Linked DNA regions of Homo sapiens: regions 1, 2, 3, 5 and 6 are each linked to region 4. Evidence: fine-mapped expression QTL. A gene starts in region 4. Each other region holds a variant in brackets. All regions are shown on one strand. Distances are between the middles of the regions.

Region 1 (5,079 bases), 150 kb before region 4:
GGATGTGAAGTGATGTCTTGTAGGTTTGACTTGCATTCCTGATGATTAGTGATACTGAGCATCTTTTCACATGCTATTGGCCATTTGTACATCTTCTTTGGAGAATGCCTATTCATGTCTGTCATGGGATAAATTGCGTCCCCTCAAAAATCACATATTAAAGCCCCAATAGCTCAAAATGTAACCGTATCTGGAGATAATGTCTTGAAAGATGTAATTCCATTAAAATGAGATCATTAGGGTGGCCCCTGATCCAATATGACTGCTGTCTTATAAGAAGAGGGAATTTGAACCCAGGTGTGCACACACAGTAAAGACGATGTGAAGACAGAGGGAGAATATGGCCATCTATAAGCCAAGGAGAGTGGCCTCGGAAGAAATCTACCTTGCCAATACTTTGCTGTCAGACTTGTAGCCTCCAGAACAGTGAGAAATATTTGTTGCTTAAGCCACCCAGTCTGTGGTACTTTGTTAATGGCATCTCTATCAAATTAATACAATGTCTTCATTTATTTTTAAGTGAAGTTTTCATTGTTGTTGTTGAGTTGTAGAAGATCTTTATATATTCTATATATTAAGCCCTTTATCAGTATATGATTTGCAAATATTTTCTCTCATTTCATGTGTATACATCAAATTTTTGCAAAATATATAAAATATCTGGCTTATAGATAATACACAAGAAATGATAGCTGTTGTCAATGAGTGCACATTTATTACATTTTTAAAGTCTTCCTTATTTTTCTTTATGTGTTTGACTTTTTATTGTAAAAATGATACTTCAAAGAAAAAAGGAACATTTTAGTATAATGGAGTCTGTTGATATCAATAGAAAACGTGTAATTGTCTACTTGCAGATGACTTAGTATAAATGAAATTGGTCAAACACAGTATCTGCAAACGTTAGTTTCAAAGAAAATGCCAAGCCAAAAAGAAGAAACATTTTAGATATCAGACCAGATATATAGACAAAGCTGACTGAGTAGCATACAGCCTATGTGAGTCAATATAGTGCAGAAAAAGTTTTAATATGGCTCAAATCCTCTGAATTGATGATGTAAACATTTCAATAGATAAAGTCTAAAGTAGACAACATTAATATGTTGATTAGAGGGGGAAAATGCCAAATTATATATATAGCACCGAAAAATATACCATTATTTCCTACAGATAATTGCAAATACAAAAACTTGTAAATTAGATTAAAATTTAGTAGTTTGTATGAGCATTTTTTTGGCAAGTGGATGTGATTAACTGGTCAAAGAAATTGAAGGTAAATGCTGTTTTGCAAACAAAACCAAAATTAGGGCAAAACAGAAAAGCTCAAAGAAGACAAGTAAGCAAAAAACTTCCATGTTCATATTTTAAACTGCAAGTTTTACCCTAGGTGAGTAAAGTGGGCATATTTATTTGGGATTAGGTAGTAAGATTTCATTTTAAAAAGTGTTTTCTTATATGCATTTACTTGTAAATAGCAGCAATTATTTAAATTTTTTTCTTGTCATATAATAAGTGGATCTGTTTTAGTTTTGTCATTTGAAATTAGAAATTTAATACAAAATTTTTGAGGAAAAATAAGATAGATAAAAGAGTAAAATAAAATCCCAGAATTTTCACTTGGCAACAATTCACCTATGATTTACCAAAAATCTGTATGAGTAACCGATTTATTTGAAACAAATCATCCTAAACCTAGTATCTTGAAACAATAGCAATCAGGTGTTTTCCCAGAAATCTCCAACTGAGTAACTCTTTGTGAAGAAGATGGCTTGTGCTGTAAGAAGCATCAGCTGAAATTGCTTGATTGGAAAGCTAAAGGGTTTTCTTTCAAAATGGCTCACTCACATGGCTTGGAAGTTGGTGCAGACTGCTGGTTGCTAACTCAGTCAAGGTTGGGGACTAGGAACCCTGTGTCTTCTCTATGTGTGCCTCTCTGCAGACTCATGAGTTCCCTTAACACATAGTAGTTAGATTTTAAGAGTTAGCATGGCATTTTTTAGCCTTTACTAATCAAAAATCATACAGCTTCATTTCCACCATATGATGTTGACTGAGATAATCACAAAAGACTACCTGGGTTGAAAGAGAGGATTATAAACTCTTCCATGTAAAGGAGTTTATAATCCTCCTTTTCATACTCTTCATACCTCAAGAAGAGTATGTGGAACAGGTGATGTTGTAACCATCTTCAGAAAATACAATTTGCTGTGCTCCACACAATTTAGATTCCTTCCATATGCCAAATGCATTCATCGATTCCCCAAGAACTCTAAATTTCTTATCCCATTGTGGCGTGAACTTCAGTCTCAGAGTCCAAGATCTTGATATTTAAACCAGAGATAGCACAATTCGTTGGGAATTGATATGGTTTGGATTTGTGTTCCTGCCCAAATCTCCTGTTGAATTGTAATCCCCGTTGTTAGAGGAGAGGCCTGACAGGCGGTGGTTGGATCATGGGGCAGATTTCCCCCTTGCTATTCTCATGGTAGTGAGTTCTCACGAGGTCTGATTATTTAAAGCTGTGTAGCACCTCCCCCTTCACTCTCTTCCTCTTGCTCCAGTCATGTAAGATATGCTTGCTTCCCCTTCTGCCATGATTGAAAGTTTCCTGAAGCCTCCCCAGCCATGCTTCCTGTACATCCTATGGAACTGTGAGCCAACTAAACCCCTTCTCCTTATAAATTACCCAGTTTCGGGTATTTCTTTGTAGCAGTGTGAGAATGGAGTAATACAGGAACATTCTCTTGAGTATATTTCTTCTTGATCTGAAGATCTTTGAACTAAACATACAGTATATTCTCTCTTTTAATACATATGATAACTGCTATAGACACTCTTCTTCAAAAGCAGGAAAACGGAAGGCTCACAACAGGTCCATAGCAGCTCTGTTTAAGCTGGATCCGTATTACCAGAATCTCTGTGTATTAGTTTGTT[C/G]TCATGCTGCTATAAGGACATACCCAAGACTGGTTAATTTATAAAGAAGGAGGTTTAATTAACTCATAGTTCTGCAGGGCTGTGGAGGCCTCAGGAAACTTACAATCATGGCGGAAGGGGAAGCAAACACGTCTTCCCTCACAAGGTGGCAGGAGAGAGAAGAATGAGAGCCAAGCAAAGGGGGAAGTCCCTTATAAAACTATCAGATTTCGTGAGACTTATTTCCTACCATGAGAACAATGTGGGGAAACCTCCCCAATGATTCATTTACCTCCCGCGGGGTCCCTCCCTCCGCATGTGGGGATTATGGGAACTACAATTTAAGGTAAGATATGAGTGGGGACACAGCCAAACCATATCACTCTAATTAGGGCTAACTCATTCTTTGGTGGTTGTTCTCTGTGACTCTTTGTTCTGCCCTCTAGGTACTTTGTTCCACCATTTGTATTATCCTTTTTTTTTTCTTTTAGAAAAATGAGTTTCAACTTAATTGTCTTCTAAGCCTGCTTCCTGCCTATAATGTTTGACATCCAAAAACCGATTTTCATTTTGAACTTTCTCTGTATCATGTTGCCCAAATTGGTGGTGCTTCTGCCAGATCAATTCTTTTAAAAAACGTTGTGGGTTTTCTATAACTCTTTCTAAGGTTCACTCTGTTAGACAAAAACTACTCCCACCCATCTTTTTGAGATAAGCCTTTCTCTCCCTTGGGCTTTCTGTGAGGGGGCTGTGGGATAATGCTGTGAAGATTCTTAGAATACCTATTATTTAATGAATATGAGCCAGTAACCATGTCCTTAAGATGCATAAAGGGGCTTTTGTTTATCTGAATGCTGCTATGTGACAGTATCTTAAAGTATATTACAGTCCCTCCTGATATTCAATCTTTGGTTTGAGGCCCTTTCCTAATTTGAGAATAATTCACTGTTGGGAGAAATTGTGGATGAGAAACAGTTTCATTTTCTAATCCAGCATGTCCTGACTCCTTTATATTTTCATATTTAACAGTTTATTCTTTAATTCATCTCCTTCCTCTGGAATTTTATCATAGGCAGCAGAAAGAATCCAGGTAGTACTTTCAATATTCTGCAATAGCTAGATTATTCAGTTCAATAGATGTTGTATATTTCCTATTTTCCACATTACTGTGGACATTGTGAAGTTTTCTATAAAGGGTTCATTTCCTCTTACTTCCCTTGATATTTTTTCCACTTCCCTTTAGGCCCTTAAAAATAACATCCCTGAAGTTGAGGCCTTTCAAGCTTTCACTAGCAGTCTTCTTAAGGCCCCTCCAGCTTCTGCTCACTAACTGGTTCCAAAACCATTGGCACATATTTGAACTTTTATTATGGCAGCATCTCATCTCTGGTATCAAAATATTAATACTTCTGTTTTGCTAAGTAGCAAACCAGCATAAAACTTGGTGGCTTTAAAATATTACAGTAATTAATTTTGTTCATTAATTTAAACATTGGGCAAGTCTCTGTATAGAAAGATCTTTTCTGTTACACATAGTATCAGCTGGGATCACTCATTTGGGGTTGGAGAGTTCACGGTGGCTCATTAATAAAGCTGGCAAGTTGATGCTGGCTTAATTCAACAAGTAACATCACAATAGCCCAATAATTTTTTCATATACATATGTCATAATACTGGTAATAATAGAAAACAGTGATAGAGAGCTTACCTTTTGATAGAGGCCACACACAACTGATCTCATTGAATCTTTTTTTTTAAATATTAAAAAATGTTTATTGAGTGCATCCATCAGCCATTCTTTTATGGCTTGTAGTTTTCCTGTCTTGACAATCTCCTTCACTGAAGATCAAACTAACCTTTTAATATTTTCATTTATTTTACTTTTTTAAAAAAATTTTTTATTATACTTTAAGTTTTAGGGTACATGTGCACAACGTGCAGGTTTGTTACATATGTATACATGTGCCATGTTGGTGTGCTGCAACCATTAACTCATCATTTAACATTAGGTATATCTCCTAATGCTATCACTCCCCCCTTCCCCCACCCCACAACAGGCCCCAGAGTGTGATGTTCCCCTTCCTGTGTCCATGTGTTCTCATTGTTCAATTCCCACCTATGAGTGAGAACATGCGGTGTTTGGTTTTTTGTCCTTGCCATAGTTTG
Region 2 (5,079 bases), 92 kb before region 4:
AGGCAGAATAATATCTTCCCCAAAAGATCCATGTTCTACTCCCCAGAACCTGTGTATATGTTATGTTGCGTGGGAAGGAGAGGATTGAGGTTACTAATCAGCTGACATTAAAATGGAGAGTTTATCCTGAATTATATGTGTGGTTCCAATGCAATCACAAAGGTTCTTAAGAGTGAAGGAAGGAGACAGAAGAGTCAGAATCAGAGTGCTGTTATGTGAGAAAGACATGACCAACAGTTGCTTGCTTTGAAGTGGAAGACAGCCACAAGCCAAGCAAGGTATGCAGCCTGCAGAACCCAGAAAGTCAAGAAAACAGATTCTCCCCTGAAGTCTGCTGAAAAGAATGCAGTTCTGCCAACACCTTGATTTTAGACAGATCTATCCCACATAGATCTCACTGGGAAGAACTGTAAAATGATAAATTTGTGTAATTTCAAGCCAAGAAATGTTTAATATTTGTTATAGCGGCAATGGCAACTAATATAGCGTTACTAAAGTGAAAACATTTGAGTTGAGTAGGTATCTAAAATTGAGTTTCAGTTCTTCTTTTTAATTAACTTTCAGCAAATTATTAAAGTTATTAAACATCTACAATAAAAAGAATGATTATTAACTTTCAGGATATAAAAGTAAAGAAAATAATATACACTTTAAAAATCTGAACCATATGTTAAACACTGTGTGCTAAAAATTATATAAACATTTGAAATCAAAATTATTAAGAATAAAACAAAGTTCTGGTTTTTAAGGAATTTGTATTCAAATTTAGAAGAAAGACATTTAAATGAACAAATTTAAGTAGAAATTAAGTAGAAGATGATATTATTATAGAGAAAATAGCAAATTATTGGAGAGTGTTAAAAGACGTGCCAAAAATATTTGGAGATGTTATATCTAGGATGAATTTTGAAAGATGAATACATTTTGCCAGGTGAATATTAATGTAAATATACTTAGAATTTTATTCACTATTGACGAGGGTTTTTGTTTCGGCAGATTTTTTTTTGATAAAGTTAAGGAAATATTTATTTATTCCCATGCTTAAAATATTTTTTAAATCAGGAATAGTTTTGAATTTTATGAAACACATTTTTGGTCTCTGTGGGAATAAAGATTGTTTTACCTTCTAGCATTGCAATTCTGGGGAAAGTCAGTGGAATTTACAAGTTATATATTGCCAAGTTCTGCTTGCTAAATTTTTTTTTTTTAAACAACATGATTGAGGTATATTTTTCCTTTGGTAAAATGGGTGTTTTTTGTAATTTTGATTAATCTAGTGAGGAAAGAACCAGCTTTTTGTGTCATAATTTTTTTTATTGGTTTTCCATTTTTTATTTCATTAGTCTCAGTTCTGATCTTTACTTTTTCCCCACTTCTACTTATTAATGTTTAATTTGCTCTTCATTTTCTAGTTTCTTACGATGGACACTTAGATAATTTAGTTTAGATATTTTTTTCTTCTAATACACACATTTAAAGTCATAAGTAAGCCAGATGTGGTTCCAGCTATGCAGGAGGCTGAGGTGGGAGGATGTTTTCACTTCAGGAGTTAGATGCTTCAGTGATCCATGATCATGCCAATGCACTGCAGCCTGGGAAACAGAGGGAGACCCTGTCTCAATAAATAAATAAATAGACAAACGAATAAATAAATATTCTAAATACTGCTTTAGCTGCATCTCACAGATTTTGATATCTCACATTTTATCATTCAATTGAAAATATTTCTAAATTTCACTTATGATTTCTTTGTTAACCCAATGGTTATTGTCAAGTGTGTTGTTTAATTTAGAAACACTGAGAATTTCTCAAGTAATTTTTTGATGTTTATTTATTTAAAAAATTACACCTAGTAAAATTTACTCTTTTGGTGTACAGTTCTATGTGTTTTTCCAAATGCTAGGTACCTTGTAGCTACTACCGTCAAACTATAGAACAGTTCTATTACCTTCCTAAAATTTATATTTGTGTGTGCTTTGTAGTCAGTATCTCCCTGCACTCTTGTTCTCTGTCTATGTAGATTTTGCTTTTTGAGACTTCAAAATGAATTATGTGTTTGTTCTCTATTAGGTACTGTCTTTTTACTTTCTCTTAAGACTGTTGTTACCAAGATGAACAAATACCTTTACTGCAGCTGCAGTTTCAGTATCAGGTTAATATCCTGATATTAATATTGTTAATATTCTGGT[A/G]TTATTAATTTTATCTTTGTTTTATCCCTTTGCTTAAGAGCTAAGCTCCAAGTTAATTTTTTTCCAATATTTTAGCCAATACTTCAAATTATTTTAGAATGAGAGTCTTTTGGGATATCTGCCCTGATATATATCTAAAGGCAGAAATCCAGGTCAAAATTTTTTCTCCAAACTTAGGTTAATATATACATCTGCAGATAATATGCCAAACAGTTGTCATACAAATGAGCTTGTCCAAAAGTTTCTTACTCAACACTGGTTTTGAGATCAATTCATTGTGTGTGTATGTGTAGTTTCTGTTTATTTAAAAAATAATTTATGATATTCAATCATACATATAAGTCTTATTTTCCTTCTTTCTCTGAAGGGCAAAACTCTCTCAAACTGTGTTTTCCTCTGCTCTCACACAACACAACAATCATCATTACAGAAGGAGAATTCTATGGCCAAATATGTGGGGATTTTTCCTCACATACCAAGCAGCAGACACCAGTTGGGTGCCCTCCAATTCAATTCAGATACTTTACCTAGAGATAGTGTCAGATCCCACAGGTTTAAGGCTCAGTCCCCAAGACGGACCCATTACCCCAGATACCAGTCGCAAGTCTGGGCCCCTGAAACTTCCGATTGACCAACTTCAGTTTGTGGTTTCTGTGACCTTCTCTTTGGGTTTGATTAATTTGCTGGAGCAGCTCACAGAACTCAGGGAAAAACTTATTTTTGCCAGTTTATTAGAAAGGATAGTACAAAGACTACAGATAAAGAGATGCATAAGGTAAGGTATGGCGGAAGGTGCAGGGAGCTTCCATGCCCTCCCTGGGTATGCTATCCTCCAGGAATCTGGAGGAATCACACGGTCAGTTTTCTGGAATCGCCGAACTCTGTCCTTTGGGTCTTTATGGAGACTTAATTGGTTCACTGAAACATGGACAATTGCATCAAAATGTAATTGGATGAAAAGGGTATGATCTAAACCCAGCAAGTCGTGTCTGTTAGGTCCTTCTTAGTCTTTGTGCAACATATCTTCTTCCAGAGTATGGGGCAGGACCCTCTCTGGAATGAGGGTCTTATGACCCACAATCAGATTAAAGTCCTGACATGGGCAGGTAAAAGAAGGACAGGAGAGGGTCAGAGAGAGAGATTTTGTTTCCTGAGGTCGCTTCTAAGGCCCAAATTGCCCCAACATTATAACAAAATACTGTAACAATGGTTATGAGAGTTATGAGCTACGAACTGTGAATGAAAAAATATATATATATTCATATATATGCCTATATATATTAGATATCATACTTTCTCTATTGAGGAAAATTTAGACTATTTCCTTATAAAACACCACAATTTTTAATAAATGTATTTATTAGAATTTATGTAAGTATATAGGGAAAATAGTAGGGGAAATACTATATTACATGGTATATGCCTTTTGGTTGTTCCAAACTGTCCTCCTGAGCCACTGAACCAAACTGCATTATCACTGGCAGTTTATGAGAGTAACTGATTTGTCACACCCTCAAGAACATTGATAGTGTCTGTGGGACAGATTCTATTTTTCAAAGATGGCTGCAACATATCTCTGACCCCATATGCTTTTCTTACAATGTACTTTAACAGTCCTCCATTAAGAGCTATGCTTGGCTGGGCATGTTGGCTCATGCCTGTAATCCCAGCACTTTGAAAGGCCAAGGCAGGCAGATCACCTGAGATCAGGAGATCAAGTCCAGCCTCGCCAACATGATATATAGCTCAGGCTATCACCTTATAGATAGCATATTTCTTAGATGGTGTCTAAACTCTCAATACTTCTCCAGAAAGTTCATAAAAAAGAACCCTACCATGGGGGAATCCATAGAAAAGAAAGGAGGGAGAGCTATCAACACCACACTTCTGAGTTGTATCAGCCAGCTTCTCAATAATCTCCCAGAAATCCAGGCACCCAACCGTAGGTGGGCTGTTTTTCTCCAAGTCTGAAAGTGAAAGGTGGCCCCACATAGGTGGGCATCAAATGATAAAGAAGAAAGCAGTCCTGCTACAGAAAATTTTTGTCTCAATACTTTAGTATTATTTGTTAGTTTCTTCTTTCCTTTACAAACTTGATGCAAATTGCATGAGATTTGTCTATCTTATTAATCATTTCAAAGAACAATTTTATGGACTGAATGTTTGTGTCTCACTAAAATTCATATGTTGAGATCTAATCTCTAGTGCAATGGTATTAGGAGGTGGGGCCTTCAAGATGTAATTAGGAGTAGGAGAGGTCATAAAGGTGGAGTCCTCATGAATAAAATTAATGCCTATAAGAGTCACATGACAGTGCTTTCATTCTCTGCCCTACTCTCCACCATGTGATGATACAATGAGACACTGGCCGTCTGCAACTTAGAAGAAGGCCCTCACAAGAGCCCAACCATGCTGCCAAACTAATGTTGAATTTCCACCCTTCAGAACTGTAAGAAATACATTTCTGCTGTTTATAAGCTACCCAATTTGTGGTATTTTGTTATAGCAGCCCAAGCCAACTAAGACAGGTTTCATTAAAACTTTAACAATTTCTCTTTTCTTTGTTTTTTATTATATTTTTCTTTTCTTATTCTTATTTAACTCTATGATTCTTTTCCTGGTTGTGTGAGTCGAATATATAACTGATGTATTTTAAAAATCATGTTGCTATTGAAGAAATTTATTTAAGATTATAAATGTTAATATAATTACAGGTATACCTCTAGATATTGTGGGTTTGGTTTCAAACTATAATGATGAAGTAAATATAAAAATAAAGCAAGTCACACAAATTTTTGGTTTCCCAGTACATATAAAAGTTTTGTTTATACTTATGTAGTCTATCAGATGTGAAAAAATAATGTACCTATCTTAATTAAAATGTTTTATT
Region 3 (5,079 bases), 25 kb after region 4:
ACAGAAGTGTGCTGTTATGGTGGAGGCATATTCATGTTGGTTCTGCATTCACAGTGAACATTTGTACCCAACTCCTAAGACCTACTAGAGATCAAATGTGTTTAAATTGAGTGTACTCAGATAGAAAGATATTCTGAAATTTCTCAGCTCTTTTCTCTATATTGTTGAAAATTATCTTTTACAATGCAAAGCCTCTTTAACTTGTAAAATATATTATTATACTTTGCTTTGAGTAATGTGCAAGTTAATGTCCCTCCCATTCCAATCATAACAGTCCCTCAGCCAACTGTAAAAGATGCTTTAATGATTATTTTCTTTACTTAATGTCTTTTTTCATCTAGGGTTAGACAAGTAGAGCTGGAGTGCCTTGCCTATGCGCTATCGTTCGTTTTAAAGATTCTTGGGGAGTTAAAAATAAAAGAAATTTAGAAAAAAGAAAGTTGAAAGTTAAATGACTGTATTAACATAGTACTAACCAGTAAATTAAGAGTGCAATGAAATAAAACAAAATTTCAAATTCAAAATGGCTTATGTCATGAAACCCTTAAGGTATTTTAAATTTTCACTGTATACAAAATTGTACAATTAGCAAGGAACAATGTGCTAATGGGTTTTAAATATTCATTTTAGGCTTATAGTTTTCAGTTTATACATTTTTTGGAGAGCTTCAATACATAAATACCACAACAATTCATTTAAAATGGTATTTTTTAGTTTCCTAAATGATTTGGATGCCCAAGTCTCTTTCTATAAAAGAATTTCTTAGTATAATAATTAGGCAATAGTTCAATTCATTCCAAATGCCTAGTAAAATTTCTCCTAACTATTAATTATATCTTAATAAAAGCTTCCAAGCGAACCAAAATTTTTTTGTTTCAAAGGGTTATAATTTTACTGATCGTATAAAAAGAAGCTAAGTTAAAGACAGCAAACCTACTGGGTAAATGGAATTCTGATCTCATTCTCTTTTTGCCTAAGTGTGCCAGAGAAAGAGTGAAAATGATGAGATTGGTGTTAAGGAAAATGTTTTTATTTGTGGGCACATGATGGATTTCTCTTGATCTTTTCCATTTTGCTGTCTTTTCCTCCTGGATTCTGACAGTACTAAATATTCTGGTACCATTCTATCCACCTCCAGCTCATTAATCAAACTCTAAGTTTCATAAGTTTAGAGGTTGTTTATTATTCTTTCAGTATCTCCAACAGTATATGTAACATATCTATTATTTAGCTACTTGACACTTAAATAAATATGTATATGTGCACATGTGTATACATGTATTTACATATGTGCACATGTGTGTATGTGTATTGTATAATAATAGAAAATTTTCTGGTCTTTGTCCCAGATTCCTGGGATAGAACTTCTAAACCCCAGACATTTCTTAAGGGAGAGGAGTATTTGTGTTGTTCATGATAGTCTCTGGGTTTATGCTTATAAGGTCACTTATGGTGGACTTTTAGATAGCTTATGTTAACAAGATAGCTCAGCATGAAGGCAGACTATGCCAGAAAAACCAACCATGTAATTAGAAGGTTGGTGCTTTGAACCAGATGATATCAGTTCAACCTCTGGGCAAGAGAGATGGATTGGAGATTGAGTTAAATCCTGTGCAATCGCACTGCATAGCAAGACTCCAGTAAAAACTCTGGACACTGGGGCTCAGATGAGCTTCTTGGTTGGGGACACATCAATGTGCTGGGAGGGTGACATGGTCCTGATTCCATGGAGAGAGGGCCTTCAAGACCCTCCTAGACCTCTTCCTCTGGCATCTAAAATGAGAGCAGTCTTGTTGGGGACTATGCCCTTGATCTGTGGGATCTGCACTAACTCTGGGAAGTTACTGACATAGTTGACTTGCAGTATTAGATAATCTGTGTTAAATATGTGTGTTAAAATATATGAATATTTCTATCTTAGAGTCGCTAATTAATAGTGGCAGCAAAGATTCTCAATCCTTATGGTTTGGAAAAGAGATTTACACCTTTACCATGAAGTGCTTTTATTGTCTTGCCCAATCTCAGAACAAAACCAATACACAGTTAGCACTATTAATCCCCTCGGAAAACTATTCTTCTGGGGTTTGAGGAAGGCTTTTAAGAGGTTTTACTACCCTATGTCTGATAAAATACTAGATAAAGACTGCATGCACAGGTTTAAAACTTGAACAGATTTTTTGGGAAAATAAGAAGGGCTTAACCATGATTTCTATTTTGTCCTTCCTATGTCCTCTTCCATTTTATGGCTTAGGTTTATTAATTTCCCCTACCTTTTCTCCATATAATTTCCTTTTCCAAAGAATGGACATTACATGCTCATTTTCACTAACATGTAAACAATGAATGGTGCTTTAGTTGTTCTCCTCCCTCTGAGCAGAGTTCTTTTTCATTCCCTTATCAATATGTCAAGAAGCCCCACTTTCTATTTTGACTCTACAAAATTGTTTCTCATAACATAGTTGGATGAAACAGGCCTGCCTCCTGTGAACTCTGTCTCCTTTGTTCTCTTTATAAAAGTAGGAAAACAGTTTATTATGTCAGACACTCTTTTAAATGCTTTGTATGTATTAGGT[C/CT]TTTTTAATCTTCAACAAACCAGGAGGTAGGTGCTATGTTAATCTTCACTTTATAGATGATTTTGTGAGACACAATGAGTTAAAAGCATTTACTCGAGAAAATTTAGCTAGTAGGTGACAGAACCAAGATTGCAATCAAGGTTATTTGATTCTGAAGTCCATACTCATAAATTATTGAGCTATGCTGCCTCACATAAAATGCTTCTCGGTGCTGGAGAACTGTGTTCTTGTTCTATCCTAGGAAGAGAAGTTTGTGAAACATTTGAAAAAATTTCTCCTATTTCCACAGTCTTATTTCTCAGGACTTTCCCATATGTTCCCTCTTTCTACTATATTGAATTCTTGGTTATTTCCTAAATGCCAGCTACTTTTTGCAACTTCCCACTTGCTTTTTTCTCTGCTTGAAGGGCCCTTCTCTATTTCTCTTTGTCACTTACTTCTACTCATTCTTCAAGTCAGCTTCAAGCTTTCCATAAAGCCCAGTATGGGGAAGTAACCATTTCTCTGTCTCTCATCAGTATCCACATACTTTTATTTGGGCACTTACCATAATCTGTGGTGACCCTTCCTTACTTCTGTTTACCTCAGAAGACTGAAACCAACCTGATAGAGGTCTTTTATCTTACATTTCTCTATCTCTAGTCCTAGCACAAATTTGAGAACCTAATAACTATTCATTAAAAGTTTGTAAACCAGAGAACAAATTAATAAAACCAGATAATAACATTGCAATATTTCTGAAACCAAGGTTTGTAACCAAAGATTTTTAATTTTTTTATATCCTAAGAGGTTCTAGGTATTGCAAAAACAAAACAATACTATTGTGAACTTACTTAATTGCATCTGAAATTTTATCTTAATCCCAGACATTGGCTTAAGGTTACAGTGAAAGAAAAAGTAGGTAAATAATTTCATCGCCTTACCCACCCTTTCGTGTTTTTAACACTTCAAACATACACCCAAACACACAAAAACACATACATATTGCCATGTGTATACTATGGATATATATACTTCGTGTGTGTGTGTGTGTGTGTGTGTGTGTGTGTGCTTGTGTATGTATATATTTCCTCATTCCCCTGCGTGGAAAGTGACAAAGTATACTATCATTTAAAATTACTTTCTTAACATCATGATAAAATCAAAATAAACTGTCACTTTTAAAGCTTTGTAATTTTATACCCCATCATCTTAACAGCTATGATTCACAGAGTTTTGAGAGTTTTTAAATAATGACTTAATCTTTGATTTTGAAATTCAGAAAAAAAATCAAAAGGAATGGATGTATTCATGATTGCAAAAGAACAATTTTATTTATGAAAATACTAACATTTATCTCTGTCTGTATATCTTGAGATCTCTCAGGATGTATGACTCTGTTTTGCAGAATAAAAGCCTTTGCTGTATGATATGAGTGAACTATTCTAATAATGAAAGAAAATCCATGCTAACCTTAAATCTGTATAACTGCATAGCACTGACCAGGAAAAGCCAACTTGAAAGGTACTGCTTATAGAAGCATGTCAGCCCCTATTTTATGGTGGATCCTGTCACTTTTCTCAGGAGAGATGTCTGGATCAGTGTGCTAAGTACTCTCCTGTTTCTAAAAATTCCCAAAGAATGTCTAAAATCAGTAGTTCACAGTTTATGTAGATCATAATACAACTGACATCTGTAAGCTGTAGAAATAGATACACACTGACATGGCTAAAAAGTACCTGCTGTTTCTGTGAAGAGAGGCCGAAGTTTTCTCTAGGAAACGTACTACATAGATAGTGATTAGTATTCCTCTAGATACCTCTGGCTTATCACAGTTGATATTCTCTTATTATGCCTTCTTCATTGGGGTACAATTCAGATTTTATGTAAATGCATACCAACAGGGATATTACTTTACTTCAAATTTGAGTTTGGTTATAGACCAATGGTTATATAATGTTACTACTTCACTAATTTTATAAGTTGCTAATAACTTTCTATGTTTATGTAGTATTTACATAATGGATGGAGGTTATCTGCCAATAGAAAACAACAAATGCCATCAGGACTTAGTTGATAGTGAATCCTGTGGTAAGAGCTTTACATGTGATTGTTCGTAAGTTCTTATTTCAATTAACAGGATGAGTTTAATGAGATTACAAAACTTGTCAACTTACCTGGGACCACACAGCTAGTAAGTGGCAAAGCCAAGGTTCAAATCCAGGACTTGCTAATTCCAGTGCCCATAGTCATCATTGTTATGTAAAACTACCTTCTTTACTGCAGATATGGAAAGGCTTTATACTACAAAACAGTAAATAACAGGGAATTAATGATGGCTGCACTGTAGAGAAACTTTTTTTTTAATGTTTTGAATTGCACTCGATCAGATAGTTGGTTTTTATTTGCCAAAGACCAGTATGATTTACAAATTCCTCCCTATTATTTCAAAGAAAACACAGTGTGATTTCCAAAGGTAAGGATACAATCATTTCTGGGAAATACTAGCTGGCATTTGCAGAGAATA
Region 4 (5,079 bases):
TTAAATATCTTTCCCAGTTAAAAGGATGAAATCTGTAGATTCCCTCCTCCCCATTTTGCAATCCATCAACTTTACAGAAAACTATTGATTGTTTTCCAGTGAATATAAAAACATAACTAATATGTAGTGAATTATTATGAGCTCGCCACTGACTAAAGCACTTTAAATGTATTAATATTATCTCATTTAACTTCAAATTAATGACTCTTTTCCCCTACTTTTAGATAATGATACTCAGAGAAGTAGAGAAGCTGGCCTAACATCACAAACCTATGCTGTTGTGGAGCTGGCATTTGAAACCAGGTGTTTTCATTACATTCTCTGATTTTAAATACTTTCAAAAAAGCAGGAAATCTACATGGACTTCAAAGAAAATTGCCTAAGAATATCTTCTTTGAATGCATGCTTTTAACATTAATGTTTTTTCAGGATTATTATATCAACTGGATTTCTCACACTCAGTTTCAGTTTCTTCACCACTCAAATATGCATAGTTTCTCCTCCTTGGGTAGAAGCCACAGTGTTCCTCAGTTACAAGGAGTGCTTTATATGAGAAATGGCATAAACAACTGTTGATACTTGTTATGGAGAAAAGTCAAATAACTCAGAAGCATGTGAAATCTGAAGTTTAATATTTTGAAAGAGTTGCTATGTAGAAAACAGGTGGCAGAACTAGAACCCATGGAGGAAAATTAAGGGATGAAGATTTTGGTTCAACACCAGAAAAAAATATTTTTAAAAAGAAATGTAATTAGTGTTGTCTAAATCATAATTGAACAGTCTCAGGAAGCAATGAGCTCTCTGTGGATAAACTCATATTCTGGAATGTAATAAGGCAAAGATGTAATAGAAAATGATCCAGCAATAGATGGGGATAGAAAAAATATAAGCATATAGTTATATAGTTTGTGTCAGTTTCCTCATGATTGTCAAGGGTTGGTGGAGGGTTAGAGAAGAGGAGGTCGCAGGATGCTATGGATTGAATATCTGCATACCCTTACCCCCAAATCAAGTTAGTATGTTGAAGTTTAATCATTAAAATGATGGTATTTATAGGTGGAGCCTTTGGGAGGTAATTAGGACATGAGGGTGGAACCCTAGGAATGAGATTCATGCCCTTATAAAAAGAGATATGAGAGGGCTTGTGTCCTGTCCGCTTTCCTCCATGTGTGTTAGATTGAGCAGCTAAAACAGATACACCATACATTGGGTAGCTTATGTGACCACACAGTTCTGGAGGCTGGGAAGTCCAAGATGAAGGTGTCAGTAGATCTAGTGTCTGGTGAAGGCTGGCTTCCTGGTTTGCAGATGGCTGCTTTTCCCTTATATTCCCACATGGAGGAAAGCCAAAAGAAGCAAGCCCTCTCATATCTCTTTTTATAAGGGCACTAATCTCAGATGAGACAGAGCAACATAGAATGAAAAAATAAAAAGAACAAAATAGGGAGCATGAAATTTTAGTGACTTGACAAACAATAGACATTTTTCTTTCTCTGCTCATACATCGACAGAAACTGGGAATATTTTTGTCATATTCTGCCACACTTGAACAAATTTCAGTGGAGGCATCATAACTGAGCCTGTGTTAAGACCAAACCTTTACTTGACTTACAAAACTTTCTGTGAGTTTTTTTCTTAGTATGGTTGATTTCTTCAAGAAAAAGGATGTAAGTTTACCAATAAGGTATTTAAAGTACAAGTTACTTAATTCTTTATTAGCAAATAGTTGGCTGCTAATTTTTGCTTCTGAAAACACTTAATAATTAAAGGCTACAATATTTATATCTCAAGAAACGTCTCAGGTTTTTTCTCGTCACTAAGCTTAAATCTTACTCTTAAGCAAAAATATTTTAAATTTGAAAACATACATTGTATTTGACTATTAGCTTTTTTTTTAAAGAGAAGTCATTAAACTTAAAGCTAAAAATAAATTTTATATTTATGTGTAGCAGTTACCATATTGATGTGCTAAAAAGTTTATAGATTTAGCTACCGCAATAACAACTTTCTAATCAAAAGTTGAGACTGTTGTGAACAACTCTTTTGTGAATATAACCTAGCATTGTACAGTATAGATTGACTATCGCATATGCAAAATGCTTGGAACCAAAAGTGTTTCAGATTTCAGATTTTTTTTTTTTCAGATTTGGGAATATTTATTTGCATATGCATAATGAGACATCTTAAGGATGGGACACAAGTCTAAACACAAAATTCATTTATGTTTAATATACACTGTATACACAAAACTGAAGATAATTTTATATAATATTTTACGTAACTTTGTACCTGAAACAAAGTTCTGTCTGTGTTTTGACTGAGATTTGTCATATGAAATCAAGTGTGGAATTTTCCACTTGTGGCATCATGTCAGCAATCAAAAAGTTTAGATTTTGGAGCATTTCCAGTTTTGAACTTTTGGATTAGAGATGCTCAACCTGTATTTCCTACAAACTGTCATTAGGAAAAATCAGAAGACTAATTATTGTCTAAATTTTACCGTCTAGAATTTCTAATATCATTCAGCATTTTCAACTTTTTTCTTAATAGTTTCATATTGGACTGCTTGCTTCAAATTCACACATTAACCTAATAATTAAAAGCTAGTGGAAAGAATTATCAGATTAAAGCCTTAATTTCTACAAAGCATAAGTTAATAGAGAAAAACAAGTGCAAAGAGAGGCACCAGGTGGTTCATAGGACCTTCAGGTAAAACAAATGAGATTTTATTAGGCTTACAGATAGAATTTTTGCCTGTGTGTCAAGGGATAACAGGAGTGTTGATTTGAGTGGCTTATGAAACAGGCATGTTTAGCTCAGCAATATTACTCATCACTTGGCTTTTTAATCTGCCAAGAGATGGGTACGATTTGCACTTATGAACTGTGTGTAATTATGGTGATTCAGGTTTTGGCTTATAATGAATCCTCCATCACAGTCTGTTTTCTCGGTCTTTTATTTTCTGTTCCTCTAAGGGAAGAGAGACCAAAGAGAATTCTACTTTGACCCTGGCTTAAGAGTGGAACATAGATGTCTATAAAACTATGTGGTATGTACATTTATAAAAATTTTAATTTGCATTTTCTCTAGGTTTTATGTTTTTGGTGATAACAGAATAAAGTGTGCATGCCATCCAAGATAAATGGATGAAGGAAGTTCACTTCTTTTTAATTATCTTATACTGACAGATAAAGCAAAATAGAAAAAAAATTCTGTATTTAACCTTAACAAGCTGAGACACACTAGAGAAGTGGAAAATAGATTGTGTGCATCTGATCGTGCTGCACATTCCCTTTAGGTTGCAATCTCTGCTGTTATTACCGACAACAACTGAGACTACAGTTTTAACTCTGTATTTACTTCTAGTTATCCCACAATTGGTACATAGTATTGGATGGAGCCCTGTATTTCAAGGAGTTCAACTACCTAATTTTCATAGCTGAGATAACTAAGTTTCTGAGTCCGTTTTCCTTTTTCCAGTCTGATCTCTCCTTTTCTCAAGGCTACTTTCGTTTCTGATAACATACTAAAGGTTATAGGATTTATCGGTATTTTGCCTCCTGGGGTCATTTGTTATTAAAAAAGAAACTCTATTCAAATAACTGAATCTCTACTATTGGATTTTCCAAAGCTATGATAGACCAGCTAGTGAAACTATTTTGTACTGGAATTTGGCAGGGTGATGGGGTGGGGAGAAGGTGTGGAGAGGAATTCTTGTCCTCAGTCCTGATATTTCTTTCCAGGTGAATGTGGTCTTCCGTGTGCTACACTCCTTGCCTCTCTCTGCTCTTCTATTCACTATCTACCAGAGAAGATGGAGTGATTCACTCTGATTAATAAATTTGGAAAAAATCAATTAGACATGCTCCGAATAGTTCCACCCTTTTTGTCTTAGAAGACAGCTGCCCTCAGAGAGCAAGATTTTACCTTTGTAAATTGGTACACATGATCTAGCTTAGCATTGCTTTTAACAGGGGGAAGTCTGTATAATTCCTGGATTATTATCATGCCAGTGGGTTCTCATATTATACTTTATCCTCCAAATTAATTTTTTGTGGTGAAATTGATGCTTTTACTTCTTTTCTTTTCTTTTCTTTTTTTTTTTTTTTTTTTGAGACGGAGTCTCACTCTGTAGCCCAGGCTGGAGTGCAGTGGTGCCATCTTGGCTCACTGCAAGCTCCGCCTCCCGGGTTAGCGCCATTCTCCTGCCTCAGCCTCCCGAGTAGCTGGGACTACAGGCACCCGCCACCACGCCCGGCTAATTTTTGTATTTTTAGTAGAGACGGGGCTTCACTGTGTTAGCCAGGATGATCTTGATCTCCTGACCTTGTGATCCACCCGCCTCGGCCTCCCAAAGTGCTGGGATTACAGGCGTGAGCCACCGCGCCCAGCCGATGCTTTTATTTCTATCTTCTCATTTGTGTAAAGTGAATAATGATATCTCACTGTGATTTCTAGTTCATTTTTGTGACTCACAAATATAGATACTACTTCCGTTATATTACCTGTTTATTTTCTTATGTGAATTGCTTTCTCATACCCTTTTCTAAATTTTCTCTTCAGTACTTTACAAAGGGATTTGAAAGTGAGTTTGGTGATAATACGAAAGTATTTCAAGTGGACAAAGTGCAAATAATAGTATCAGTTGATGTTAGCATACACACACAGGAATGTCTTCTTTTATAGTAAAATTTATTTATTTATTTATTTATTTATTTATTTATTTATTTATTTATGACAGAGTCTTGCTCTGTCGCCCATGCTGGAGTGCAGTGGCCCTATCTCGGCTCACTACAAGCTCAGCCTCCCAGGTTCACGCCATTCTCCTGCCTCAGCTTCCCGAGTAGCTGGGACTACAGGCGCCCGCCACCACACCTGGCTAATTTTTTGTATTGTTGTTAGTAGAGACGGGGTCTCACCGTGTTAGCCAGGATGGTCTGGATCTCCTGACCTCGTGATCCGCCCGCCTCGGCCTCCCAAAGTGCTGGGTATAGTAAAATATTGAGTGTGTGTGTATATGATAGAGAGAAAATAATACTAATTTTAAGAGAGTTATATGAAAATTCTTTTAGATTTCTA
Region 5 (5,079 bases), 120 kb after region 4:
ACTAGAAATACCATTTGACCCAGCCATCCCATTACTGGGTATATACCCAAAGGATTATAAATCATCATGCTGCTATAAAGACACACGCACATGTATGTTTACTGCAGCACTATTCACAATAGCAAAGACTTGGAACCAACCCAAATGTCCAACAATGATAGACTGGATTAAGAAAATGTGGCACATATACACCATGGAATACTATGCAGCCATAAAAAATGATGAGTTCATGTGCTTTGTAGGGACATGGATGAAGCTGGAGACCATCATTCTCAGCAAACTATCGCAAGGACAAAAAAACCAAACACTGCATGTTCTCATTCATAGGTGGGAATTGAACAATGAGAAACATGGACACAGGAAGGGGAACATCACACAGTGGGAACTGTTGTGGGGTTGGGGGAGGGGGGAGGGATAGCATTAGGAGATATACCTAATGCTAAATGACGAGTTAATGGGTGCAGCACACCATCATGGCACATGTATACATACGTAACAAACCTGCACGTTGTGCACATGTACCCTAAAACTTAAAGTATAATAATTAAATGAATTAATTAACTTTAAAATAAAACATTTTATTAAATATGAAAAAAAAAAGAAGAAGAATCCATGGGAAAAACAGGGAGGGGTGTAAAGTTCTCCAGGGAGTGGTGAAGCAACTGAAGATTTCTTACCATTTTTCCATGAGGATAGTTGCTGATCTGGACCTTAATAGAGGCTGAGAATCAGGATCAGGACTTGCTAGATGGCTATTTACCAGGAACAAGAATTTATGAGAATTTGGATTCCCTGTATAAGGTTAGGATGACAAAATACAATTAGGTTATTTTGCCCTGACTTTCAAATTCATAGTGTTGTAATAATAAAATATATATTCATTTGTGCCTGGCTTCCTTTGTGCAACCTAGTGTTTTAGAGATTTATTAAGTTATTTATTATATCAGCAGTTTGTTCTTTTTAATATGATTGCTCAGTGTTACTTTGTATGAATATACCACAATTTGTTTATCTTTTCTGCTGTTGGACATTTGCATTGCTTCTAAGTGTTAGCTGTTATGAATTAAGCTCTATTAGGTTATTGTACATGTGCTTTGTGATTATATGCCCAGATTTATCTGAGTATGCACTTAGAAGAATTGCTATGTGACATAGTAGTCTATGTTTTATTTCAGTAGATAGTGTCAAAGAGTTTTCTAAAATGATTGTAAAAATGTTCCTTTCCACCAGCAAAATTCTGCGCATTTTCACTGACACTTAGTATTCATTATTTTTTACTTAAACATTCCGGTGAATGTGTAATTATAATCTTAGTTTGAATTTAATTTGCATTTTCCTGATGAATAATGATAGTAATGTAGTTGAGTTCCTTTTCATATATCTTTGGTTTGAATATGCTACTTTGTGAATTGCCTGATCATCTCTGCCATTTTAAAATTTGGATTGTTTACCTCTTCCTGATTGTTTTGTAGGAGTGTATTATGCATTCTGGATATAAGCCTTTTACCAGATTCTTGTATTGTAAATATTTTTTTCCAGTCTGTGGCTTGCTTATTCAATTCTTAATCATGATTTTGAGAAACAGAAGTTTTTAATTTTAATGTAATTCAGTTGAGTTTTATATTTGTTGTCATTGCTTTTCCTGTTTAAGAAACCTTTGCGTAATCCTAAGTCAGGAATATATTCTGTTTTTTTTTTTCCCCACACAAGTTTGACTGCTTTAATTTTAGATTTAGGTCTAAGATCAAATTCACATTTATATTTAAGAATAGTATGAAGTAAATCTCAAGGTTCATAATTTTTCCATATAGATAACCAAACATTCTACTGTCACTTACAGAAAAGTCCATCCTCTTTTGCTCTAATTAGGTGACTATATTGGAGTGACTGGAAATATGTGGGTATATTTCTAGGTTTTCTTTTCTGTCCATTGGTCTATTTGTCTAACAATGCACAATTAACTCCTCAATTAATATAACTTTATCATGTCTTGAAATTTGAGAATATAAGACCTCTAATGTTGTTCTTTGCTATTTAAGATTGTCTTCGTTTTTTGGGGGAACTTTTGTTTCTATATAAGTTTTATGATCAGCTCATCAATCTTCACCAAAAAAATTGCTGACATGTTGATTGCAACTATATTAAATTTATAGATCAATATTTAGTAATTTGGCATCTTAACAATATTGAACTTTCATAAACTTTCTAATGTTTTAAGTATTCTTTAGTTTCTCCAAATAACATTTCAACATTTTTAGAATAAAAGTCTTGTATATCTTTTACTGCATCATTACTATGTGAATTTTTATGAAATTATTAATCATATTTTAAATTTTTATTTATAATTGTTTATTGTTGGCATATACAAACACAAATAAATTTTCTACATTAACCTTGGATCCACCCAACTTCTTTAATCCATTTTTGAATTATAATGGTCTGTAGATTATTTTGAATTTTCTACATGAAATTATATCATCTTAGAATAAAAATTTACTCTTTCTGTATTAGTACGTATTACCACAATAATACTATGTAGAAAGTTGACTTTAAACTCACTGTTCTAATAATTATTCATATTGTGAATTTGAAAATCAGAGATTTAGGTTTGGTGGGATTTTTGTTTGTTTGGTTTGTGTTTTGTTTGTTTGTTTGTTTGTGTCTTCCTGAGTTACATTTT[C/A]TGTCTACAGTTGGCTGGCTATGCAGTGAAGCTCCATATGTCCCACATTCATTCTTCAGAATAACTTGGGCAAGTTCTCATGGTGAAAGTAGAGGTGCAAAGGTAAACAAGTCCAATTATCTAAGTATGTGCGAAGTCTCTATTTGTGTCTTGTTTACAAACAGCACGTGGCCAAAGCTATGAATCACAACATTAAGGGCTGAGTAAAATTTCCTGCCCAGACTTGGACAGTACTTGAAACTTGTATACGAAAAGAACAGATATAAAGAGGGGAGAAAGAATTTGGGCTGAAATTCAATCTATCACACTTTCCCAACCTAATAGCTCATATTTCTTTTTGTTTGATGAGTTAGTTCATCAGTACAATGCTGATAGGAAGACTGATAGTTAACATTTATGTCGTGTTTCTATATGTAATAGGAAGGATCTGGAGTACATTTTTGATGAATATAAAATTTTAAGTTTATGGTTTTCTTCTTTCAGCTCTTCAAGCATTTTTTCCTACTGTCTAATGAACAGTCTGTATTAATTTTAGTTTTGTTCCTGTCTTTATAAGTTTACCTGTTCTCTCTTTTTCAAAATAAACTGTTAATTTTAGAGCCATTTTAGATTTACAGAAAAATTGTGAAGAGAGTACAGAGTTGCCATTACCCCCATAAATGCAGGTTTTTCCTGTTTTAACATCTTACATTAGTGTGGTAAATTTGTTACAATTAATTAGGCAATATTTATACATTAGTATTAAATACATCCATATTCTATTCAGATTTTGTTCATAATGTTCTTTTTTGTTCCAGGATTTCATCTGAATACCAAATTACTTTTGGTCATCATGTCTTCTTAAGCTCCTCTTGGCTGTGACACTCTCAGACAAGAATTTTGATAATCATGTTTTTATAACCTTGACAGTTTTCTAGAGTACAGTCAGGTATTTCCCACAATGAGAGTTGTATGATGCTTTCCTATAATTAGACTGGGATGATGGGGATACATGGAGGGAAGGCACAGAAGTAAGGCATGGAGGTAAATCATCGTGGAAAAGCTATTTTATCACAGTATGCCAAGTGTACATAACATTGTAGATGTAAACCATGATTACCTGGATGAGGTAGCAATTGCAGATTTTCTTACTGTAAAGTTATTCTTTTTCCTCCCTTGTTATATAGCACCATTTGGAAGCAAGTCACTACGCATAATTCACAATTGAGTAATAAAGATTTATGCTTCACCTCTTTGAAGGTAGAGTATCTACATATATTATTTGACATTCATCTCTATTTGTTCAGTCATTTATTCATATCAATATGGATTCATGGATAATTACATGGGTACTTTATACTTTGGCTTATAATACAATACCACCTTTTATTTTACTGTTCAGATGTTTCCAGCTTTGGACAATGGGAGCTCTTTCAGGTGACTCTTAGTCCCTTTGACATAATACATCATTGTGTTTAGTATGTTTGTTTCACTTTTTAAATTTTTCTTCATTTTCAAACACTATAAGATGCCAAAAACTCATCTTGCATATTAACTGCCCACGTCTTAGAATTAGATATTTCTCTAAGAAGCCCTGATTCCTTTTGTTGGTAGTGTCAGTCCTCCAAATTTGTTCTTCTTCATTATTAGGTTGATTATTTATTCTAGGTCTTTTATCTTCTCATATAAACTTCACAAAAAATTTTCTACTTTTTCCATTAAAGCCTTTAATATATTAATTATAGTTCATTTTAATCCCCTCTCTGATAATTTCATTGTCAACTTTATATCTGCATCTGGTTTTGATACTTTTTTTCTCTTCAGAATCTGTTCGTTCTTGCCTTTTGCCATGTTTAAAGTCAGACATGATGTATCAGGTAATAAAAACTGAAGTACACGTTTAGTGTAAAGGTTTTTGTTAATCTGGGTGCTTTAAACTGTATTTAATATCTGATGGGCTGTGCTTAATGTGTATGCGTCTGCAGGTGTCAGAGGTTTCAAATTTCTCCAGTGACCTTATTTTTGTGTCACTGGTTGACTTGGGCTTCCCTCAGTATTCCTCCTCAAATAATCTTTGTCTCACAACTCTTTTAGCTGAAATACAATGTATTATTTTAGAGCCCTGTTTTTTTGGTGGTAAGTTGTGAAGGAGAGGAAGCATTCTGTAATATTAAAATTAAATTTTGCTATTTTATTGGGCCTGTGCTCCTGGCTCTGACCTTCACAAGTGTTTCTTAAATTCCTTCTTTCACTGTGCATGAAACAGGAAGGCTCAAGAGGGTTGCAGTGAGAGTAAGCCCATTCCTCCAAGTAGGATAAAGCTATGGCAAAGCTTTATCCTGTGGACAGTAGGCGTTTGTAATAGAAGGATGCTGTTAGCTTATTTCTTTTTCCCTTCTTCTGCTAGAGCCACAAAAGGA
Region 6 (5,079 bases), 160 kb before region 4:
CCTAGAAGACACAGTATGGCAAATTCCCCATAGTACATATTCTAAACTTTGCCATTCAGGTGGAACTGTTTGAAAAACCACATTTTGTGCTTCACTTCCTTCCTTTTCCTGAGTTTATTCCCTTTTACTTCTATTGGTAGCACTTAAAGTGATCCTTCCTGCTTTGAACAATTCACCATGTAAATAAAATAACATCAAAGAACCAGACTTAATACACTCCATTCCAGCATGGGCTCCCACAGGTTGATCTGAAGGAGACTGAAGAATTAATCACCCAGGATAGAAGCCTCAAGCTTTTCATATGCTTAATGCTCAAGTCACTTTCACAAAAAATGCTCTCCTTCCCTTTTGTTTTTATGTTTAGTTTTCTAAACACTGTCATTCTGTTTCCGCTTCAGCTCCAGATCCCCAGGATGTCTTGGCACCAAACACATGTAAAACAGATAAACACCTTCTTGCACACTCTAACAAGTGCAGCAATTAGTCTCTGAGCACAGCTTGCTCTCCACCATGGCAACTCATTTGGTGCTGTTTGTTATCATAGGAAAACAACTTTGAATCAGCAACATTTGTTTGATTCCCCAGTTTTCACCCCTGTTGGCATGGTGGCTTCTGTATATCCTTTTCATATCATAAGTTCTGCACCTCTAAGAAATGAGCTGCACCCAGCATACAGCACTTGACTCCTGTATGTCACCTTGTCACATTCTCTTGGAACTTTCAGCTCTGGGTAATCTTCACTCCATATGGGCTGTGATAACTACTTGCCATGGTGTGAATGATAGATAATTTCAGTCCGGACATTTTTTTCTTTCCTTTTTTTACATAATAGTAGAAACTTAGCATTAATAATCCTTGTTATATGTTTATAAACAGCCTATATTCCAAGATGCAAAATGTTATTTGCTATATACTCAAGGGGGTATATTTAGCAGGTGAGAGAACACTTTTCTTCTATTTTCTTGATGCCACAGAGAGGCTAAAGAATTTCTCTGAGTTGTTGCATAAATTGTAAAGTTGGATGTAAAGTCCTTATAAGGTGTTTATTTTATGTATTACCTTACCTTCCCCAATTATATTATTTCAGAAGTACTGGATTTTTGAAGAGAGTATGCGGGGCTAAAATACGTTGAAATTTGTCTTCTGTCCTGAAGCATGGTAAAGAAAGTTATGAATAAGAGTGCCTGTTTTCATCAGTGATGTATAATAAACCATATTTTCTTGTGTAAATTAGTATTATTGTTATTGGTGGCAAATTCATATGGGTCTGCAGTAACCTCAGTTCTTGCCTCCTCAGAAGAAATAATTTGACCAAGGAGGGCATAAGGCAGAAGGACAGACCAAGGCAAGTTTTAGAGCAGGAGTGAAAGTTTATTAAAAAGCTTCAGAGCACATTAATTTTGTATCCTGAGACTTTGCTGAAGTTGCCTATCGGCTTAAGGAGATTTTAGGCTGAGACGATGGGGTTTTCTAGATATACAAACATGTCATCTGCAAACAGGGACAATTTGACTTCCTCTTTTCCTAATTGAATACCCTTTATTTCCTTCTCCTGCCTGATTGCCCTGGCCAGAACTTCCAACACTATGTTGAATAGGAGTGGCAAAAATCACAAGCATTCTTATACACCAATAACAGACAAACAGAGAGCCAAATCATGAATGAACTCCCATTCACAATTGCTTCAAAGAGAATCAAATACCTAGGAATCCAACTTAAAAGGGACGTGAAGGACCTCTTCAAGGAGAACTACAAACCACTGCTCAATGAAATAAAAGAGGATACAAACACATGGAAGAACATTCCATGCTCATGGGTAGGAAGAATCAATATCGTGAAAATGTCCATACTGCCCAAGGTAATTTATAGATTCAATGCCATCCCCATCAAGCTACCAATGCCTTTCTTCACAGAATTGGAAAAAACCACTTTAAAGTTCATATGGAACCAAAAAAGAGCCTGCATCGCCATGTCAATCCTAAGCCAAAAGAACAAAGCTGGAGGCATCATGCTACCTGACTTCAAAATATACTACAAGGCTACAGTAACAAAAACAACATGGTACTGGTACCAAAACAGATGTATAGACCAACGGAACAGAACAGATGCCTCAGAAATAACGCCACACATCTACAACCATCTGATTTTTGACAAACCTGACAAAAACTAGCAATGGGGAAAGGATTCCCTATTTAATAAATGGTGTTGGGAAAACTGGCTAACCATATGCAGAAAGCTGAAACTGAATCCCTTCCTTACACCTTATACAAAAATTAATTCAAGATGGATTAAAGACTTAAACTCTTTATACATTTAAGAAATATTTATTGAAACTCTACTATATGTTAGGCATTGTGCTAAAAGCTAGGTAAAGTGAGTGCACTAAAGTAGATACATACTCTTCTGCCTTCAGATATGTTATGTTCTAGTGTATGTGACAAGTACTAAGAAAAATAATTATACATTAAGTGTTAAAAAGGAAATAACAAGGTGAGACTGAGACAAGTGGGGATGGAAGGGAAGTATGTTATATAAGGTAATAGGGGCAACTTTGCAGATTTTGGTTTCCTTGGAAATCACAGTCACTAGAAAAACCACACTGACTATTTCTGCTTATTTATGTCCTTGCATTCTGTTGCAAGGAGAGGATAATGGTATGGGAGAAATATGAGGTTTGATTTCAGAAAAGGTTAGTGAAAACATGTTTTTGCCTTGTGCTTACCATTCAAGGTGTCTTGGAGAAATTTGTTTTTTTCGCTGGACTTGTTTCCTTCTCTGTTGTAATGCTTATTATAGAGGTACTTACTCACCAAGCTGCTAAGAGGTACAACAGTTGTTATCAGAATGCCAAGCCAAGTATTTAAATATGTTGATAGGACTGCATTTGATAACGGCACTTAGCAGATCTTTATTGGTTCTGCATATGTCAAAAGCTAGAGTTCCTTGACGTGACTTAGCCAGTTTAGTCTATGACATTAGAATGTCTGCATCTATAAATATATAAGCCAGACTTAGGCTTTCAAAGATGCTGATGAAGAGCTACAGCCATTTTTACTTTGAATGGAACAGAATGATTTTTGTTGTAACTATTATGAAGTCAAATTTATAAAC[T/C]TGTGAGAATATGTGGTGGAGCTATCCAGCTAGGTAGTCTTGGTTTCATCCTGGTGGGTTCAGCGTTCTCTAAACACACACTAGTGTTGCAGCTGCTGTGTTGTTAGGCAATGTTATTGGTTTTAGGATGTTGGACAAATACCTATCAAATGATATGCACAGAGGATTGCATGACAAATATCTGATTTCAAAGATGATAGGAAACATGAAAGCAGGGGCCCAACACTTATATACAGATGAGTACATCTTATAAGTTACAGGTATTTATCTGGTTGTCTTAAGCAAATGTTCGTTATGGCCATCAGTTTACACATTGGTACTCAGCTGTACCTTTAGTGATATTTCCTTCTATTCATCCTTCTTTATTCCCGGTATAATCATTCTAAGATAATGTTGGTGTTAAGAGGTCAAAAGCGGGATTCTATCAAATGCTCTGAAATATGCAAAAATATGGTTTACATTTTCTAAAGCATGCTTGAGAGGTTCTAACATCTATTGATTTTTTGAAGGTATCTGTTACACACAGATACTAAATCCTAGCCCTATATATTACTGTAGAAGGTATTTAAAAAACTGATGAAATGACAAACAAAAGATTGAATCAGCTATATACCAGGAACTATGCTAAATTATTTTACATTACTTCTTAATTTCTTAATTGCTCTTATTTCTAGTATTTCTACCAACTCTGTATAGCCTCCCAATTATTCTTCAAAGTGACCCAACCTATCATGTCTTTAATTATCATTACATGCTTAGTTTTTAAAGTTGCTTTTTCCTGTTCTTGGTCATCACTTGTGCTAGTGTTCTTTGCTTTCAAACTGTCTTCAGAATAAGTCAACAGATATTGTGGCAGCTTCTCAAATACAGTAAGTCCCAAGCTAAGTAGGTCATTCCTAAGTGTTCTCAATCCTCCAGTAAAAGTGTTCTTTTTCTCAGTTTCTCTACTTTTGTCTCTGATTTTTAAAATTTTTCCTTGTGTGTCAGTCTGGAATATTCAAAGTCATTTTGGTTTCTTTTCTTGTCTTTGCGTTCTTTATCAAATCTGTTCCTAGATTCTATTTTTCCTATCAATTACATCTTTAATTTACCCATTTCTTTGTTCTTCTCAATCCATAACTTAGAGCTTCAAAATCTATTTCCAAATTATTTTTCAGTGAACACTCTTGCCTTTCCTTGTTGTTTCTTTTTTTTTCTTTTTTTCCATTTATTTTATCTTATTTTATTATTATTATACTTTAAGTTTTAGGGTACATGTGCACAATATGCAGCTTAGTTACATATGTATACATGTGCCATGCTGGTGTGCTGCACCCATTAACTCGTCATTTAGCATTAGGTATATCTCCTAAAGCTATCCCTCCCCACTCCCCTAACCCCACAATAGTCCCCAGAGTGTGATGTTGCCCTTCCTGTGTCCATGTGTTCTCATTGTTCAATTCCCACCTATGAGTGAGAGTATGCGGTGTTTGGTTTTTTGTTCTTGCGATAGTTTACTGAGAATGATGATTTCCAATTTCATCCATGTCCCTACAAAGGACATGAACTCATCATTTTTTATGGCTGCATAGTATTCCATGGTGTATATGTGCCACATTTTCTTAATCCAGTCTATCATTGTTGGACATTTGGGTTGGTTCCAAGTCTTTGCTATTGTGAATAGTGCTGCAATAAACATACGTGTGCATGTGTCTTTATAGCAGCATGATTTATAGTCCTTTGTGCATATACCCAGTAATGGGATGGCTGGGTCAAATGGTATTTCTAGTTCTAGATCCCTGAGGAATCGCCACACTGACTTCCACAATGGTCGAACTAGTTTACAGTCCCACCAACAGTGTAAAAGTGTTCCTATTTCTCCACATCCTCTCCAGCACCTGTTGTTTCCTGACTTTTTAATGATTGCCATTCTAACTGGTGTGAGATGGTATCTCACTGTGGTTTTGATTTGCGTTTCTCTGATGTTCT

Evidence for each region. PIP is the estimated chance that this variant, and not a neighbour inherited with it, causes the effect.
Region 1: its variant is fine-mapped to the expression of LINC01239 in esophagus muscle (GTEx, PIP above 0.99).
Region 2: its variant is fine-mapped to the expression of LINC01239 in sun-exposed skin (GTEx, PIP 0.96).
Region 3: its variant is fine-mapped to the expression of LINC01239 in tibial artery (GTEx, PIP 0.93).
Region 5: its variant is fine-mapped to the expression of LINC01239 in subcutaneous fat (GTEx, PIP above 0.99). The same link has a PIP of 0.9 or more in aorta, atrial appendage, breast, esophagus muscle, gastroesophageal junction and minor salivary gland.
Region 6: its variant is fine-mapped to the expression of LINC01239 in prostate (GTEx, PIP 0.95).

What each region holds. Positions count from the first base shown.
Region 1 is chr9:22,498,074-22,503,152 of GRCh38, forward strand. No RefSeq gene overlaps it. Among named protein-coding and RNA genes, the nearest start is that of DMRTA1, 54 kb to the left of the region's middle. The variant C/G (reference allele first, on the strand shown) is at 2,935.
Region 2 is chr9:22,551,540-22,556,618 of GRCh38, forward strand. No RefSeq gene overlaps it. Among named protein-coding and RNA genes, the nearest start is that of LINC01239, 92 kb to the right of the region's middle. The variant A/G (reference allele first, on the strand shown) is at 2,190.
Region 3 is chr9:22,667,779-22,672,857 of GRCh38, forward strand. All of the region lies in intron 1 of LINC01239 (long intergenic non-protein coding RNA 1239), which reads left to right. LOC107987054 (LINE-1 retrotransposable element ORF2 protein-like) reads right to left here. Exons shown (of 3, transcript XR_001746635.2): 2 at 4,730-4,856. Among named protein-coding and RNA genes, the nearest start is that of LINC01239, 24 kb to the left of the region's middle. The variant C/CT (reference allele first, on the strand shown) is at 2,574.
Region 4 is chr9:22,643,248-22,648,326 of GRCh38, forward strand. LINC01239 (long intergenic non-protein coding RNA 1239) reads left to right here and starts at 2,953. Exons shown (of 6, transcript NR_038977.1): 1 at 2,953-3,049.
Region 5 is chr9:22,764,485-22,769,563 of GRCh38, forward strand. All of the region lies in intron 4 of LINC01239 (long intergenic non-protein coding RNA 1239), which reads left to right. Among named protein-coding and RNA genes, the nearest start is that of LINC01239, 120 kb to the left of the region's middle. The variant C/A (reference allele first, on the strand shown) is at 2,681.
Region 6 is chr9:22,483,455-22,488,533 of GRCh38, forward strand. No RefSeq gene overlaps it. Among named protein-coding and RNA genes, the nearest start is that of DMRTA1, 39 kb to the left of the region's middle. RefSeq lists an enhancer at 70-697. The variant T/C (reference allele first, on the strand shown) is at 3,112.